2 linked regions of the Homo sapiens genome follow. The protein of the gene in region 1 interacts with the protein of each later gene in a pairwise test. Each region holds a gene or a part of one and is shown on either strand. Other genes may lie near its edges.

The links. The genes of interacting proteins can lie anywhere in the genome.
Region 2: the proteins of GAB1 (region 1) and PLCG2 interact in binary tests that used the Homo sapiens proteins (3 or more experiments, as listed by UniProt).

Annotation. Positions count from the first base shown.
Region 1 is NC_000004.12:143,339,844-143,343,590, reverse strand, and holds part of GAB1 (GRB2-associated-binding protein 1), read right to left. Parts: intron 132-3,747; exon of another isoform or gene 56-131; intron 1-55. UniProt on the Homo sapiens protein: Adapter protein that plays a role in intracellular signaling cascades triggered by activated receptor-type kinases. Plays a role in FGFR1 signaling. Probably involved in signaling by the epidermal growth factor receptor (EGFR) and the insulin receptor (INSR).
Region 2 is NC_000016.10:81,908,248-81,911,994, forward strand, and holds part of PLCG2 (1-phosphatidylinositol 4,5-bisphosphate phosphodiesterase gamma-2), read left to right. Parts: intron 1-168; coding exon 169-344; intron 345-2,272; coding exon 2,273-2,473; intron 2,474-3,747. UniProt on the Homo sapiens protein: The production of the second messenger molecules diacylglycerol (DAG) and inositol 1,4,5-trisphosphate (IP3) is mediated by activated phosphatidylinositol-specific phospholipase C enzymes. It is a crucial enzyme in transmembrane signaling.

The DNA of each region.
Region 1 (3,747 bases):
TTAGAAACTCCTTAAGGGCAGAGAGTGGGCCTTTCCTTCCTTGCATTCCACACATGGCACATAACAAAAGCTCCTGCGATACCTGTTTATTATTCAGTCAACAGGCATCTGTTGAGCTCCTACTCTGAGCCAGGCATTGCACAGGGGCTCAAGACACAGCACCCAGCCCAGGAGCACAGCAGCCAAAGGCCCTGCATGCAGGTCTGCCTTCAGTTAAAAACCAAGAGTCCCCAAAGAATACTGCTTAAGCAGTCACTAAACTATTTAAGATAAATAGTAAAGATTTCCCCACAAGGAAGATTTATGTCCCCCAAAAATTTATGTTGCAGCTTATTGAAGAGCTCCCCATTTGTCCCTTCCACCCAAGAAAATGTCTGAGAAGAGGAACGCTAAACTGCAACAGGGCTTCTGCTGAAGATCTACAGCTCCTCCCTCCCCCATTTTACAGGTAAGGAAACTGAGGATCAGAATGGTCAAATGCTCCTGTGGGTGGGTAATGGCAAAACCAAGTAGAATCCGGGTCCTGACACTCAGTCTGAGTTTCCTTCCACTATAGCAAAACATCCCCACTAAAAGCATCAGTGGGTGCATCAAATTACATTTTAATACAAAATTCTTCAAAAGTAAAGTAGTAGCCCATCTACTACAATGCTCCTTCTGGCTGTCAGTCTCTGTAAGAAAATTAGGACTGCTGAGTACCTAACACATGTTTTGAATCTATCACCTCTGGCTGGGCACGGTGGCTCACACCTGTAATCCCAGCACTTTGGGAGGCTGAGGCGGGCGGATCACCTGAGGTCAGGAGTTCGAGACCAGCCTGGCCAACATGGCAAAACCCCATCTCTACTAAAAATACAAAAAAAAAATTTGCCGGGCGTGGTGGCAGGAGCCTGTAATCCCAGCTACTTGGGAGGTTGAGGCAGGAGAATCAGTTAAATCCGGGAGATGGAGGTTGCAGTGAGCCATGAGCCAAGATCATGCCATTGTACTCCAGCCTGGACAAGAGCGAAACTCCATCTCAAAAAAAAAAAAAAAAAAAAAAAAAAAGAATCTATCACCTCTGAAACTTTCTCAGTCTGCAAATTGTCAATAGCTTATCTACATATTTTTATGTTAAGTCTAAAATATGGGATTTTACTTACTCTCAAAAAACGCTGTGTGTTTTACTCCTTACATTTTTAAGCAGGTTATGGCAAAATACACTGAAATAACCAGTCACTTGTCAAACAGATTATCCAACTATAACTCTTGCCACTTTTTGTTCCAAGATGATCTCTTAAAAAAATAATTTTAAAGAGCCAGCAGAATTCTCAAACTACCCCCTCCAAACTAATGCACCTTCCTAACAGTAATTCTGAATCTCAAAAGGTAGCAATCAGATTTGGAGATTCAGCAAGTTGCACGTGGAGAGTTCTACACTTATCATTCAGCCCAGGCACAACAAATGAACTATCATTAACCATCATAAAGGCTTAATGTAATTGCAAGTTGATGATCTCTGTTAACAGAAAAAACATTCTTGCTACACTTGAAAAGGTAAAAACATTGGGAGTCTGAATTATGTTTACTAACATGAGGATGGCAAGAAAAAATTTCCTTCAATAGAATAATTATGCTTATTCAGTCACTGTAAGCAGAAACATCAGAATCCATTGATTGCTAGTGGTAATTGTCAAAAAAGGATAGGAAGAGCTTCTAGACATGACAGTCCTCTTTGTTGTAGTGACACTATTGAGCAGGGGTTTCATGCTTAGCACAGGTCCTGGGTTGTCCTTGAACCAAGGAGATGCTGACACTTGGCCTGCCCACGCCCCTCTCCTCCATGTCAGATGTCAGGTGCCCACCCAGTAGGAGAGGCTATTTCTGTTTCTAGGCCCATTTCCAGAACCAGGGGTGTGTTTTTGAAGTCCAGACAAGAGTTGTCCTGTTAATTGACAGCTGCAGAGCAGACAGAGAGCCCACGCTGGGTACAGATTACCTACCTAAGAACTGGCTGGGGCCTTGCTACCAGGCTGGCTGTCAGCTAACAGGCCACCTTGCTCTGGCCTCAGAAGCAGGTTCTCCTGCTGAGATTGTGCACCTGCCCAATGCTGACAGCTGGGCTATGGAGGAGCCCAAACTTAGTGTTTGGGCTTCAGGCAAGGAAGCTCCTCCTCCAGAGCGATGGTGGTAGCCAGCTGTCTTGAAACAATACTTTATTTACAGACTTGCATCTTATTTCAGCTAAAATTTCAGGTTCTGATGAAAATTTCACCATCATTTCTTTAAATAATTCTTTAAAAATCTGAGCACCATTGTTGAGTGCATACTACCAAGACTTTACTTGTTTTCTGTAATCCTAGTGACAGTAATCTGTTTATGATTCCATCAGGTCCTTAACAAAGTAAAAAAGCAGCTGTTTAATATATAACACAGCATGAAAACAGCAACACCACAGTAGCAACCCTGAAAAGAAGCATTAAAATTTTCACCTACATTTTAAGTAGATTTTAAAAACTTCCAGGAGAATGAAACACATACAAGAAAGAACCTTTTGCGAATATAGAAAAAATTAAAAAGAGAAGGAAAAGCTGGGGAATCTGCTGACTACTCTTGACTTTCATTTTTTTGTGTGTCATTCTTTAGAAAATTCAAGAAAAGCTTACACATCAGACTAACACACTAGCGTGTACAAAAAACAATCCTGCTTGAGTTGACTATGAAACAGTAAACATAAAACGGAGCTGTAAATGGAATACATTGGGGGCCATATATGAGATGGCTTTAAAGCTAAAACTAAAACAATTTAAGGCCAGGCGTGGTGGCTCATGCCTGTAATCCCAGGACTTTGGGAGGCTGAGGTGGGTGGATCACCTGAGGTCAGGAGTTTGAGACCAGCCTGGCGAAATCCCATCTCTACTGAAAATACAAAAATTAGCTGGGTGTGGAGGGGGATGCCTATAATCCCAGCTACTGGGGAGGCTGAGGCAGAAGAACTGCTTGTATCTGGGAGGCAGAGGTTGCAGTGAGCCGAGATAGTGCCACTGCACTCCAGTCTGGGTGACAGAGCAAGACTCCATCTCAAAAAAAAATTAATTAAAAAAAACTAAAACAATTTTTTTGTCACTTAAAAGCCCTTATGGATCATCTTAATCAGTGTTCGGACTACCCTATAAATGCTGTAAACAGTGAGACAACTGTCAAAGTCCCATGGGCCAAATATTTCCAAACAGAATCATGATGCTCAAACTCCCTGAAGTCTCATTTAATAATTATAGTATCAAGCATCCAAGATATCTTTTCATAGCAAATCCATTCATTACAAATCATTATCCACAAACATTTTGCCTACTGGGTGGCCAACAATGTTTCCTTTATCCAGAAAAATAAACATTCTACATAAAAAAAACAAGCATAGGAAATGCACGTATACATGTCTATATCTTTGATGGTCAAAGCTACTTTAGCAAAAACCATCTAAACTGGACAGCAAAGCCAAAAGATCAATAATCTGGGAATGTCAAAATCTTCTGGGCCACCAACCTGACAGGTAAAATACAAGCCTTATTTAACCTGACAGTTAAATAAGCCTTATTTAACTCATTACACTCCATGCTGGTTTCCTCTATTCTGACAGCCGCCCTGTCTACTGTCTTCCAGGACTATCTCCATCTACTTTATTCGTGGGTAAAGAAAACACCAGTGCTACACCAGGCAAAGAAAATCCTAGTTTCTCCCAAGCTATTAGGCACATTCATCCTCCTGTGG
Region 2 (3,747 bases), on another chromosome or scaffold:
GAGGGTAGCAGGTGCTGTTTTCCCATACCCCTTCGGGTGGGGACCAGCTGAGGCTGGCCTCTCTATGTTATCTGGTACCCTGGGTCAGGGTGAGACAGAAGGACCTGTCTAGTGATGCTGGGGTTTGGTCCAAGGCTTTCAGAAACCCCTCCTCTCTTTGCGGCCCAGGATATACCCCCTACAGAACTACATTTTGGGGAGAAATGGTTCCACAAGAAGGTGGAGAAGAGGACGAGTGCCGAGAAGTTGCTGCAGGAATACTGCATGGAGACGGGGGGCAAGGATGGCACCTTCCTGGTTCGGGAGAGCGAGACCTTCCCCAATGACTACACCCTGTCCTTCTGGTAATGCCCCCGACCCAGGGAACGCCTACCTTCTTCTCCATGCCAACCGATGAGGCAGGGTGGCGAGTGGTTCTAGCTCAGGCAGGAATTGGGCAGGCTGGGACCTGAATCCCAGGCTTCATTTGTCTAGCTCTTCTAGGCCGGGACAAGGGTGAGGTGGGTATGACTCACTTCGGCACTGTAACCCAGATTAATGAGATTTCAGGGCAATCTTTTAAAAAATCAAAAGTAATGCAAAAAAGTCTGTGATGAACAAAATATGAACATTTTAAACAAAGACAAGATCTGACCCTACTCTTAGATGATGTGGTCTCACTCACTTTCCCCGATCCCAGCCCTGGAGTGGGTCATGTGGCTCTGGATGATTCAGCCAACCTTCTAGCATCTCTGTCTCCTCCATAAAACGAGGACTCTAGGGCTGTCCTTTTGAAGCCGTCATAGGCTGTGATGAGCTTGTGCATTCATTCATCCACCCACTTATCCATGTCTCAGTGCATTAAAAGATACTTCTTGAGGGCGTGCCCTGTGCTAGACACAGTACTTATGCCAGACAGACAATGTCTTTGTCCTCCTGGACACTAGCGTCTTTTGAAGGAGATGGGCAATGAAAAAGCAGTCACTCAAATGATTTGCAAGTATAGTTGTGATGAGTGCAATGAAACAAGGCAACATAAAGGGACATCCCTCCCTTTATTGGGGGGGTTTAATGTGAGTTGGGGGGATTTGTGAAAGTCTGTGAGGAAGGCTCTGATGCCCTGACGTGGGGAATGGTTAGGAAAACCTTCCTGAAAGAAGATGAGACCTGAAAGAGGGAAATTATAATTCTGTCACTTAAAAAAAAATTGTGATAGGGTCTTGCTCTGTTGCCTAGGCTGTAGTACAATGGAGCAGTCTCAGTCACTGCAGCCTCAAACTCCTGGGCTCAAGCAACCCTCCTATCTCAGCCATTTAAGTAGCTGGGACTACAGGCACATGCCACGACACCTGAATAACTTTTAAATTTTTTGTAGAGCTGGAGTCTCACTACGTTGCCCAGGCTGGTTTTGAACTCAGCTCAAGCAATCCTCTGGCTTCGGCCTCCTGAAGTGCTAGGATTACAGCTGTAAGCCATTGCACCTGGCTGAAAATTAGAATACTAATAACACGCAAATAATCCTGGACACCTAAATGATGCTTACCATGTGCTGGGCAGTATTCGAGACACCTTGTGTGTGTGGTCTCGTTTACTCTTCAGGATGCCTCTTTGAGGTGGATACTGTTATCATTCCTGTCAGACCGCTGGGGTAGTAATACAGTGTGGCTCAGACAGCACGGGTGACCTGCTCCAGGACACTTGGTTCATATGTGGCAGAGCTGGGATTTGAATCCAGGCATCCTGGCTCTAGAGAAGCAGTTATATATATAAAAGGGGGATGGGGTGGGGTGGGGTGGGGGAAGTAGGTAGAATGTTCTGGAATCCAGGCTGAGGGTCTAGCCTATACTAAGGCCCTGCATCTGGTTTTGTTGTTGTTGTTGTTGAGATGGAGTCTCGCTCTGTCGCCCAGGCTGGAGTGCAGTGGCGTGATCTCGGCTCACTGCAACCTTCGTCTCCCAGGTACAAGTGATTCTCTTGCCTCAGCCTCCCAAGTAGCTGGGATTACAGGCATGCACCACCATGCCCAGCTAATTTTTGTATTTTTAGTAGAGACGAGATTTCACTGTATTGGCCAGGCTGGTCTGGAACTCCTAATCTCAGGTGATCCACCCGTCTCGGCCTCCCAAAGTGCTGGGATTACAGGCATGAGCCACTGCGCCCAGCCTCCTGTGTCTGTTCTAGGAGCAGAGGGAAGGTTGTGTGGCCACATGTAATGTCCCCGCCTCTGAGGCCCTGGCTGCCGCAATGGCCTGGCCTGCGTTCTCCCAGCACTGATGGCGTCCTCTCCCCGCAGGCGGTCAGGCCGGGTCCAGCACTGCCGGATCCGCTCCACCATGGAGGGCGGGACCCTGAAATACTACTTGACTGACAACCTCACCTTCAGCAGCATCTATGCCCTCATCCAGCACTACCGCGAGACGCACCTGCGCTGCGCCGAGTTCGAGCTGCGGCTCACGGACCCTGTGCCCAACCCCAACCCCCACGAGTCCAAGCCGTACGTGTCTGAGGGTGGAGCAGGAGGCAGGCGGTGGTCGGGTTAGCTCCACCAGGCAGAGAAGCTGGCCTGGTGGTTCAGCCGGGCCAGTCCCCCAGGACACCCTCTCCCCAGCCCACCGGCATCTCAAAATTGCCGAGGTGGCCAGTTTCCAAATTCCTGGCACCATGACCTGTGTCCTTTTCTCTTTTCTTTCTTTCCTCCCCTTTTCTCTTTTCCCTTTCTTCTACTTTGTCTTCATAGCCCCGAGACTTTGGGCTTTGATTTTCAGAGGGTCATTTTGGCCTGGGGATATTCTCTTACCTTTCAGAGCTCCTTCCTGTTTGTTCTGAAAATGAACAAGGAAACAATGATTATAAGAGTCTCCCGCTGATTTTTTTTATCTAGTGAAATGAGTATCAAGGTAGGTCTTGCGAAGGGTCAACAAATTCTGGGAATAAAGAAAAAACAATTTTTAGGCAGAAAGCTGCAAAAATGTCCATTTCCGAGGAGGCCGTATTACTTATAGCAACTTTTTTTTTCACTTTTTCTGTCACATTTTCCTATGGATTGCCTCTTAAAACTTGCTATTTCTTATCTTAAGAAATAACCCGAAAACAACCCAAAACCTTGTGAAACTCCTGCTGTGATCTCCGTCTTCGATTTTCTGAGACACGTGGCAATAACTGTGCCTCCCTGGGAGCCTGGCTTTTCAGGTTTGGGCTGCTTGGGTGGATGAAGATGAATCAATTTTTTGAGACAAGGTGTTGCTCTGTTGCCCAGGCTGGAGTGCAGTGGAACAATCACGTCTCGCAGCAGCCTCGAGCTCCTGGGCTCAAGTGATCCTCCCACCTCAGCCTCCTATCTGGGACTGCAGGTGTGTGCCACTGTGCCCAGCTAATTAATTAATTAATTAATTAATTAATTTTGAGACCGGGTCTCGCTCTGTCTCCCAGGCTGGAGTGCAATGGCACGATCTCAGCTCACTGCAACCTCTGCCTCCCAGGTTCAAGAGATTCTTGTGCCTCAGCCTCCTGAGTAGCTGGTATTATAGGCGCACGCCACTGGGCCTGGCTAATTTTTGTATTTCCTTTTTTTTTTTTTTTTTTTTTTTTTGGGACAGAGTCACATTCTGTTGCCTAGGCTAGAGTGCAGTGGCATGATCTCGGCTCACTGCAACCTTTGCCTCCTGGGTTCAAGTGATTCTCCTGCCTCAGCCTCCTGAGTAGCTGGGACTACAGGCGCCTGCCACCATGCCTGGCTAATTTTTTGTATTTTTAGTAGAGACAGGGTTT